2 separate regions of the Homo sapiens genome follow, and region 1 is linked to region 2. The links come from fine-mapping of genetic effects on gene expression. A gene starts in region 2. The other region holds a variant in brackets. All regions are shown on one strand. Distances are from middle to middle. Region 1 has its middle 20 kb from the start of RPS3. Region 2 holds the start of ARRB1 (arrestin beta 1).

Region 1 (5,370 bases), 28 kb before region 2:
CTAAATAAATGCTAACTTTCTAAAATCTGCATTTGCGTAACAGCATTTCAACACTTTAGGACAATTATTGTTTGGCAACACATATAAACTACTGAGAGCTGTCTCGGCAGCTGTGCTGCCCAGAGATGGACCTGACATCGCTCTGATCAAAACCCTTGTCAGTGGTGCTTGGACTGGGCCGTTATGATATCACCTCCTGTCATCTCCTGCCAAATGGAACCAATGCTCTGCCAACTAAGATTTTTTTTAACAACCTAAAAAAAAGAGGTTATCCATTTAAAAAAACAACTTTTTAAAACAATTCAATTGTTGGCTAATAAATGGCTACCACTTCTTGAGTGCTTGTGAAGTGTCAGGTGTTATTTATTTATTTACTTATTTTGAGACGAAATCTCGCTCTGTTGCCCAGGCTGGAGTGCAGTGGCGCAATCTCGGCTTACTGCAAGCTCTGCCTCCCGGGTTCACGCCATTCTCCTGCCTCAGCCTCCTGAGTAACTGGGACTACAGGTGCCTGCCACCACGCCTGGCTAATTTTTTGGGTATTTTTAGTAGAGACGGGGTTTCACCGTGTTAGCCAGAATGGTCTTCATCTCCTGACCTCGTGATGCACCCGTCCTGCCCATCTCGGCCTCCCAAAGTGCTGGGATTACAAGCGTGAGCCACCATGCCCAGCCAGTGTTTTTTATTTTTTAAACTTGTCTTAGCACATTTAATTCCCACAATGTTATGAATTAGATTCTCTGTTTCACAGAGGAGGAGACAGCGCACAGAGCCAGGAAGGGGTGGAGGTAAGATTAGCTCCAGAGTCTGAGCTCCACCCCATGCCATGTGCCCTGTCCAGCCTCCCAGATGAGCAGCCTCCCGCTGGAAGGCCCAAGCTCCATAGAGCAGCCTGCAAGGGGTTCTTCACCCGCTGCCTGCACCCCACCTTTCCAGCCTCAGCCCCAGACCAACCTCTGCTCTGTGCACACTAGCTCTTCTTTCCCCAGTTGATTTTCAGGCCTCTATGTCTTTGTGGATCCCTTTCCCCTGAGCAGCCTTGTCTACTTTTCACCAGCAAAATCTGTTCCCTCCAACCCTTAGGCCTCACCTTCAAGGCTCTTGCCTCTGTGAAGCCCCTTCAGCTACCCCACCGCCACCCGACCTGCCCTGTTCTCTGGGTCTGTGTTCCAGCTCTTGGTTCAGGCCTCCATGCAGACACCTGTCATGTGACATCACTGTGAGTTATGCTGGAATCCAGTTCCTCATACCAGGGTGTCAGCTTCTGCATGATGACAAGGAGCAAGCCCAGGCCCAAGCTGAGGATCCTGACAGACCGTGGCTTGGTTTCTGGTTCTGCCACCTCCTTTGTGGGTGCCTCGAACAAAATACTTAATTCATTGTGCCTCAGAGGGGTCCTGAGTGTTTTTGGCAATATGTGTAAAGTTCCTGATACACAGTAGATGCTTCATAAATGCTGGTTTCTTATTATCAAAGACAATGACTGTGTTATATTTTTCTCTGAATTTAAAAAAAGCTTCTGTATGATCATAAAATGACATAAACAGTGAATTGATGTGAAAGGCAACTTGGTAATAACCTTGAACATTTTAAATACACTTGCCCTTTGACCCAGCAGTTGCGCTTCTAGTGCTTCCAGGAAATTATCCTGCAAATACATTCCTATAGGTGAGATATTGTATATGCACAAAAATATTCACTATAGCAAAATATTGGAAGCCACCAAAATGTCCAACGCTAGGGAACTGTTCAAAATTGTACTGTGTCCATCAGATGGGATACTATGAATCATGTACAATAATGAGATACCTCTATGTGTATTGGGATAAGCCATTTTCCAGGATTTAAAAAAATTCCAGGTGCAGTGGCTCATGCCTGTAACCCTAGCACTTTCGGGAGGATCATATGAGCCCAGGAGTTCAAGACCAGCCTGGGCAATGTGGCAAAAACCCATCTCTACAGAAAATAGAAAAAAAAATAACTAGCCAGGTGTGGTGGTGCATGCCTATAGTTCCAGCTACTTGGGGGGCTGAGGCAGGAGGATTGCTTGAACCCAGGAGGTTGTGGCTGCAGTGAGGCAAGATCACTGCATTCCAGTCTGGATGACAGGGTAAGACCCTGTCTCATAAAAAAAAAAAAAAAAGAAAGAAAGAAAAGTGCAGAACACTGTGGAAAATGTTACAATTTGTTTAGTTTAGTTTATTTTTTGAGACGGAGTCTTGGAGTCTTGTTCTGTTGCC[T/C]GGGCTGGAATGCAGTGGCATGATCTCGGCTCACTGCAACTTCCACCTCCCGGGTTCAAGTGATTCTCATGCCTCAGCTTCCTGAGTAGCTGGGATTACAGGCGCCCACCACCATGCCTGGCTAATTTTTGCATTTTTAGCAGAGATGGGGTTTCAACATGTTGGCCAGGCTGGTCTTGAACTCCTGACCTCAAGTGGTCCGCCCACCTCGGCCTCCCAAAATGCTGGGATTACAGGCATGAGCCACCATGCCTGGTTGACAATTTGTTTAAAAACCAAAAGGAAAGCCTGTACATCCAAGTGCTTATATATGCATTGAATATCTCTGGAAGGAAACACCAGAAACTTCTTTCAGACACGGTCTTTCAATGGGAGCTGGCTTCAGATCTATGGAAAGGAGATTTACTTTTTACTGACTCTTTTTTTTTTTTTTTTTTTTTGAGACAGGGTCTGGCTCTGTTGCTCAGGCTAGAGTGCACTGGTGCAATCACAGATCACTGCAGCCTTGACCTCCTGGGCTCAAGTGATCCTCCCACCTCAGCCTCCCAAGTAGCTGGACTACAAGCATGTGCCACCACATCTGGCTAATTAAAAAAAATTTTAAAGTAAAGATGAGATCTTATTATGTTGCCCAGGCTGGTCTTGAACTCCTGAGCTCAAGCAATCCTCCTGCCTCGGCCTCCCAAAGTGCTGACATTACAGGCGTGAACCACCGTTCCTGGCTCACTGATGATTTTTGACTGTTGTATGATGTGCAGGTATATGAGTTAATAAATTTTAAAAACATAAAAAATAAAAAATGCCCCGTCCGGGAGGTGGGGGGCAGTCCCCGCCTGGCTGCCGCCCCGTCTGGGAGGTGGGGGGCGCCTCTGCCCAGTTGCCCCGTCCGGGAAGTGAGGAGCCCTTCTGCCCGGCCGCCACCCCATCTGGGAGGTGTACCCAACAGCTCATTGAGAACGGGCCATGATGACGCTGGCGGTTTTGTCGAATAGAAAAGGGGGAAATGTGGGGAAAAGAAAGAGAGATCAGATTGTTACTGTGTCTGTGTAGAAAGAAGTAGACATAGGAGACTCCATTTTGTTCTGTACTAAGAAAAATTCTTCTGCCTTGGGATGCTGTTAATCTATAACCTTACCCCCAACCCCGTGCTCTCTGAAACATGTGCTGTGTCCACTCAAGGTTAAATGGATTAAGGGCGGTGCAAGATGTGCTTTGTTAAACAGATGCTTGAAGGCAGCATGCTCGTTAAGAATCATCACCACTCCCTAATCTCAAGTACCCAGGGACACAAACACTGTGGAAGGCGGCAGGGCCCTCTGCCTAGGAAAACCAGAGACCTTTGTTCACATGTTTATCTGCTGACCTTCCCTCCACTATTGTCCTATGACCCTGCCAAATCCCAAGAATGATCAATAAATACTAAAAAAATTAAAAAAAAAAATAAGGCCGGGCACAGTGGCTCACGCCTATAATCCCAGCACTTTGGGAGTCCGAGGCGGGCAGATCACCTGAGGTCAGGAGTTCAAAATCAGCCTGGGCAACATGGTGAAACCCCATCTCTACTGAAAATACAAAATTAGCCGGGCGTGGTGGCACATGCCTGTAATCCCAGCTACTTGGGAGGCTGCGGCAGGAGAATCGCTTGAACCTGGGAGGCCAGGGATGCAGTAAGCCGAGATCGCGCCATTGCATTTCAGCCTGGGCAACAAGAGTAAATCTCTGTCTCACCAAAAATAAATAAAATAAAATAAAAATAAAAATGAACATCCAAAGATATTCGATCTCTACCATTGTAAGGGAAATGCAAATTAAAACAATAAGATGCTACTTTTCGCCTGTCAGATTGCCAGCATTTGAAAGCCTGGTGTCAGTCCTGCCATACCTTGCTGGTGGTAGAGTATAATGGTATAGCTAATTTTTTTTTTTTTTTTTTTGAGACAGCGTCTTGCTCTGTCACCCAGGCTGGAGTGCAGTGGTGTGATCTAGGCTTACTGCAACCTCCACCTCCTGAATTCAAGCGATCTTCTGCCTTAGCCTCCCAAGTAGCTGGGACTATAGGCGCTCGCCACCACACCCGGCTAATTTTTGTATTTTTAGTAGAGATGGGGTTTCACCATATTGGCCAGGCTGGTCTCGAACTCCTGACCTCATGGTCCGCTGGCCTCAGCCTCCCAAAGTGCTGGGATTACAGGTGTGAGCCACCGTGCCCAGCCGATACAGCTAATTTTAAAGCAACTTAGCAGAATCTAGTAGAATACACTGCCCCCATGACCACAGGATCCCATTTTCCAGTGTCAGTTCCAAGCAGAAGATAGAACTCTGTCCCTGCCATGCTCAACATCAGCTCAGCAGCAGCAGCTACCTCTGCATGGGCACGGGGACCAGGCTGTAGGAGCTGGTCCAGAAAGGACGCCTCACCATGCCCAGCTAATTTTTTTTGGTATTTTTTAGTAGAGATGGGGTTTTATTATTTTGGCCAGGCTTGTCTCGAACTCCTGACCTCAAGTGATCCTCCCGCCTCAGCCTCCCAAAGTGCTGGGATTACAGGCATGAGCCACCATGCCCAGCCAACATCTGTGGTAAGTTTAAGAGTCTCTTGCCACAATGGCTTGGGGGTAGGAAGGCAGGTGCGTCAAGGGTATGAGGAGGAGAGTTCTGGGTGCTCTAGTACCCATTGATACTTTGGTCTGGAGAATTCTTTGTTGTGGCGGGGGTATCCTATGCCCTACAGGATGTTTAGTAGCATCCTTCCCCTCTCTCACTAAATGCCAGTAGCACCCCGCACCCCCCTACAGTTTGACAACCAAAAGTGTCTCCACACATTGCCAAATGTCACCCAGGGATAGGGTTGCCAGACTTAGCTAATAAAAGTTCAAACCACCCAGTTAAATTTGAATTTGTATTTCATACATATAACAAATTTTTTTTCTAGAATTGGACAACACCTCATTCTATAAAACAGAATGAATGTTCCTACAAATAACTTTTCAGTATAAGGATGCCCCAAATGACATATTGAGTAGAGAACATACTTATACTGAAAAAGTACTTATTTATCTGATTCTAAGATTTCACCTGGTGGCCTGCATTTTTCTGGCAATCTTAGGGGTGAGGGTGGAGGACTGCCCTG
Region 2 (5,370 bases):
CATCGTTGCTCCCTCACTGGAATTTAAAGTAAATTAAATCGACCGGGAGCAGTGGCTCACGCCTGTAATCCCAGCACTTTGGGAGGCCAAGGTGGGTGGATCACCTAAGGTCAGGAGTTCGAGACCAGCCTGGCCAACATGGTGAATCCCTATCTCTACAAAAATACAAAAATTAGCTGGGCATGATGGCAGTGGCTGTAATTCCAGCTACTGGGGAGGCTGAGGTGGCAGAATTTCTTGAACCCAGGAGGCAGAGGTTGCAGTGAGCCAAGATCATTCCATTGTACTCCAGCCTGGGTGGCAGAGCAAGACTTCGTCTCAAAAATAAATAAAATAAATAAATATATTTAGATGTTTTGGGCATCAGCATGGAGAGATCCATTGGAGATCTTATGGTTTGGTCAAACCTGTTTTACAGGTGGGGAAACTGATGTGGAGAGTGGCAGGACCTGGCTTCACCATCCTGGTTAGGGATCTCCTGTCATCAAAGAAGATTCTAGTCTGCTCCTTTCCAGATCTCTGAGCCCTGCAGAAACAACAGGTGGCTTCCTCTTCTTCCTCTGTAGAGGGTGAAACCCAGAGGCCAAGACTGGGAGGAGGGTTCTGGGCTTTCATCCATACTCTCTAGCTCCTAACATTGCCCAGAGGTGGGCCACCCTGCCTACCCATCAGCCTCCCCCTGCCCCTCTGCCAAATCTGGACATAATTATAGTAATTATACTGCATATAAACAGTATAGGTAACTGCTTCTGAGCATAATTACAGGAGATGTTTACATACTCACAACAGCATCAGAGTAAATGATAGCTTACTTTCCCCTTAATACTTAGATATCAGGGACCTATCCGGGATAATTAGCCAAATCTCAGTAGTGAGGGTGTGGTAAAGACCTTACCGTTTCCCACTACCTGCAAAGCAGGAAGGCACCTCAGACAAAGCAGGGTCCCAGCCAAGATTTCACAGGACATCAAGAAGCCTGCAGAGAAGTGGGCTAACATCTACTGGGCACCTACTGTATGCAGGCGCTCAGGGGAGGCCAGCAAACACAAGCGAGTTCTTTCAACCTATTAACAATTCTGCAGGCTGATATTAGTGTATCCTCACTTTACAGGTCCGGACATGGGTTCTCAGAAGCTTAGTGCACAGGGTCACCCACAGCGAGCCATGGAGCTGGGCATGGGCGCTTTCCACGGTGCTACCCGGTCACAGCAGCGGGCCAGCTCTGCCCTCTTCCTTTATCGCCTCTTCTCACTTCTCACAGCTTCCTCTTCCTGGGCGGCCTCCTGCAGCCCCTGCTGGCCGCGGGTCTCCGCTCAGTTCCCCAGTGTCAAGGCCGTCTACTGCCCCCTCCGCCCCTTCTTCCTGTCCCTGTTGTGTGGCTGGGTGTTATCTCTCCAGTAGAAGGGGGTGGGGTGGGTGGAATGGGGAAGGGTGGAGCACAGGGCGAAGGCCTTGCCAGGCATCCCGGGGTCTCCAGCTAAGCGAGGGGCCGCAGGGAGCGCGGCCTCGGGGTCGCCAGACCCTCGGCTTCCAACCACCCGCACACACAAAGGCTGCCCCGGCATGCGCGGGAGAGCGCGCTCGCACCCACGGCCGTGCGCACACACGCACAACTGCACAAAGACGTGCACACTCCTCCATCCACACCAATACACTCCCTAATAGGGCCCGCACACAGCCGTGCGCCCTCACATACACCACACCACCACCACCACCACCACACACACACACACACACTCTCACACGGACTCGCACGCGGGTGGACCCCCTCCCCCACCACAAACGCCGACCTTGGGGCCCTGACGCGTCCCGCCGCGCTGCCCTGCCTCGCTGGGCGGCGCGCGCACACGCAGACGCGCACACACACACACATACACACACGCACACACCCCGCGCGGTTCCACGCCCCTGGCCGCGGCCCGGGCGCTGCGCTGCTCGACGCGGCGGGCGGCGGGCGGGGACCGGGGGCGGGGGCGGCGGCGGCGGCCGGGAGAGCGGAGGAGGCGGAGCAGGGAGCCGGGAGCGGGCTGGCCCGCGCTCCTCCTGCTGGCTGGGGATTTTCCAGCCTGGGCGCTGACGCCGCGGACCTCCCTGCGACCGTCGCGGACCATGGGCGACAAAGGGACCCGGTGAGTGCAGGGCGGCCGCCCGGCGGGGGGCGCGTGGGGGCGACCTCGGCGAGGACACGGGCGGGGGCTCCGATTGCGTCCTGGTTCTGCGTTCGCGGCCACCGCGGGATCTAGTACCAGCTCTCCTCCACCCGAGGTCTCCTGTGTGGTCTCCCCGGCAGGGCCGTGGGCGGGGGGACCCAAAGGGCGAGGGCCGGGCCGCCCCATGTGGGCCGCAGCTCCTGGCCCGGACACACAGCTCGCTGACACCCAGCATTGGCCGGCAGCCGCAGAGACGCACGGGGGCAGGTTGACACACAATACACGCACGGGCACACTAACCCGTGGCACAGGCATGCTGGCGCACACACTGGCAACCGCTAGCACACGCTCATCACACGCAGTGGCACGCCGTCATACACGCCTCGGTCAACACATTCTTGCTGACAGCCTTGTTGGCATGCACAGCTCACAATCCAACACACACCAATTCTAGCACACCCTCGTGCTGGCACACACGTGTGGGCATACACTGATACGCACACTGTCACCTGCACTCGCTGTAGCAAACACTCTTGCTGGCACACACATCACCCTCACTGGCACACACACTTGTGCTGGCATGTCTCACCAACACAGCGGAGCGCAAGGCCACACCAACACTGACCCCCACAGACACAATCAGACTGATGCCCTCAAAGACTGGCACCCCACAGGCACGAGCTGCTAGCCCAAGGCCCGCTGACACACACGCTTCAGGCCCCACATGGCCAGAAGTGGAAACACACACATCACACAGGGTAGAGCGCCCCCCGCCACCCCCAGCCTGGGGAAAACAGATCGCATTTCATCCAAATAGATCCCATCCATCTACTCTGTTCCCTTTCCCTCTGACCTCCTGAGGAGTGGCTGGCCAGGGGCTGTTTTGAACCTAGGGCTGGGAGAACCCCTCCCGTTCTCCTAGAACCTGTCCTGAAATACTCAGAAACAGTCTCTGCCTCTGAAAGGGGAAACTGGGACAAAAGGAGGAGGGGGCTGGAGCAGGACAGCCCCTGGGGGCAGCCCTTCAGACAGGACCAGCGCTGGTCAGGGGCTCAGCGTTGCCACCCTATTTTCCCCGTTGCCCTCCCCACCCCCTAAGTGGGCACAGCAGCCTCTCCCTGGGCTCCCCCTCTTTCTCATTGTTTTCTGTCTTTCTCTTCTATTCTTGTGTCCGACTTCTGCCTCCTTCCTTTCCTCCCCTCCCCTCTCCTCGTTTCCATTTATTATTAAGCTCTTGCTGTATACTAGGCGTAGTGTGGGGGATCAAAGATGCGCAAGGCCCACTCCTCCCCTGAAGGAGCTAACAGACTAGAGAGACACCACCCCGGTGGGCACCACCTTTCAGGGCCACTGACAAAGCTATTTCTCACCCACTGCCATCTAAGACTCTCTCTCCACAGTGTGAGAAAGGGCTTGCAGAGATTATTTCCATTTTCTAGAGGAGGAAACAGGCTCAGAGGCAACTCAGGCTCTTAATGTTTAGAAACTACTTTCCAGCCATCCTCCTGACAGCTCTTCCAGGAGGTTAATTTTCCTCTTCCTGTTTTCTAGCAGAGGAACCAGAGGGCTAGAGGCCATGTGATTTGCCTAAGGTCAAAAGGGGCCAGAGGCAGGGCGGAGGCTGGAGTCCACTTGGTCATGTCTCTGTGGATGGCCCTAGGGCACTGCCAGGCCCCTCATGGGCCAGGGAGGGGAGCCCTGCTCTGTGCTGGAGGCCCAGGCTTTGGGGGGGACGGCAGAAGATCATGCTGTGTCTGCATGAACCTTGATGGCTAGTCCCCATTGCAGCTGGCTGGCCAGCACTGTGACCTAGGCCTCTGTCCTCAGTAGGAAGGTATGTGACTCCTTCCCCAGCCACATCCATCTGCCCTGAAATTAAGACCCTCTTGACCCATGAGGTCAGGCTTTTCTTCCTGCAGGGCATAGCAGGGAGTCGGAGCCATTCTCCACTCCATTGTCCTTCCTAGGCTGCCTTGTGATCGGAGTGACTCAGCCTCTCTTGGGTCTCTCTGTACCTCTCTGTGACTTGGGGGATAAGTGTCATTGTTGTCCTGCTGACATGATTGTCAGGAAGATGTGGACACCATGGGCTTCCAGGCACCTGTTGGAGACCCTGTCTCTGAGGCCAAGGTATTTTCCATGGCTCCCCCTGCCCTGCCTCAAACTCACTGGTGGACCTTTGGGACATTGGGCAATTGCCTTTACTTTTCCGGACGTTAGTTTCCCATCTGTAAACTGGAGCTATCAATACTTACATTTTAGGGCTTCCCTTGTACTTACTGACTTCACTGGGCAGGGGAAGAGGCACTGCCTGAAGCCTGGAGCCAAGGCCCGGCTAAATCCACCTGATGGTGGCCCAGACCTCCCCTTCAGACTCTCCTGCAGCCCCATGAGGCCTTTCTGTCCCTTTCCGGACAGTTGGCTAAGTAATTTGGAAAAGAAGGGCAAAATCAGTAATGGGCTGTACCTTGTCTTTTTCCGTAAGGCATGAGTACCTATGACTTAGAAGAGGAATCTGCAGATATCAAAAACTGAACATCAGGAATCATCGCAACCATCCCTCCATCTGGAATTGCACCCCCATGTGAAAGTGACAATGAAAATTTATCACAAACTGTCATTGCCCTCTAGGAACTCCCAGGGTCAAGGGGGAAAGAGGTGTTAAATACCTGGACAGGGCTGTGCGCGGTGGTTCACGCCTGTAATCCTAGAACTTTGGAAGGCTGAGATGGGCAGATTGCTTGAGCTCAGGAGTTCGAGACCAGTCTGGGCAACATACCATCTCTACAAAAAACACAAAAATTAGCTGAGTGTGGTGGCACATGCCTATAGTCCTAACTACTCTGGAGGCTGAAGTGGGAGGATCACTTGAGCCCTGGAGGTTAAGGCTGCAGTGAGCCATGATCATGCCACTGCACTCCAGCCTGGATGAGAGAGTGAGACCCTGTCTGAAAAAATAAAAAAAAAAAATACCTGGACAGGACTAATCACAGGGCAGGAGTATGATGGTTGCTGCAAGGTGCTCTGGGAACAATCATATATTCATTCAACAAATGTTGATGAGTGCCTTCTGAGTGCCCAGGGCCTGGGGATTCAGCAAGGAAGGAGTCTACTCTGTCCTCCAGGGATTTAGAGCAGAGCAGGTGGTCATAACGCAGGATGACATGTGTTGTGGGAGGCTTAAGGAGAAGTCCCCAACCCAGGCCCAGGCAGGGAGCAT

Evidence for each region.
Region 1: its variant is fine-mapped to the expression of ARRB1 in whole blood (TOPMed, PIP 0.97).

The regions. Positions count from the first base shown.
Region 1 is chr11:75,376,686-75,382,055 of GRCh38, reverse strand. No RefSeq gene overlaps it. Among named protein-coding and RNA genes, the nearest start is that of RPS3, 20 kb to the left of the region's middle. RefSeq lists an enhancer at 227-875. The variant T/C (reference allele first, on the strand shown) is at 2,241.
Region 2 is chr11:75,348,347-75,353,716 of GRCh38, reverse strand. ARRB1 (arrestin beta 1) reads left to right here and starts at 2,056. Exons shown (of 16, transcript NM_004041.5): 1 at 2,056-2,129. The coding sequence starts at 2,110. RefSeq lists enhancers at 848-1,803, 2,866-2,915 and a silencer at 2,036-2,315.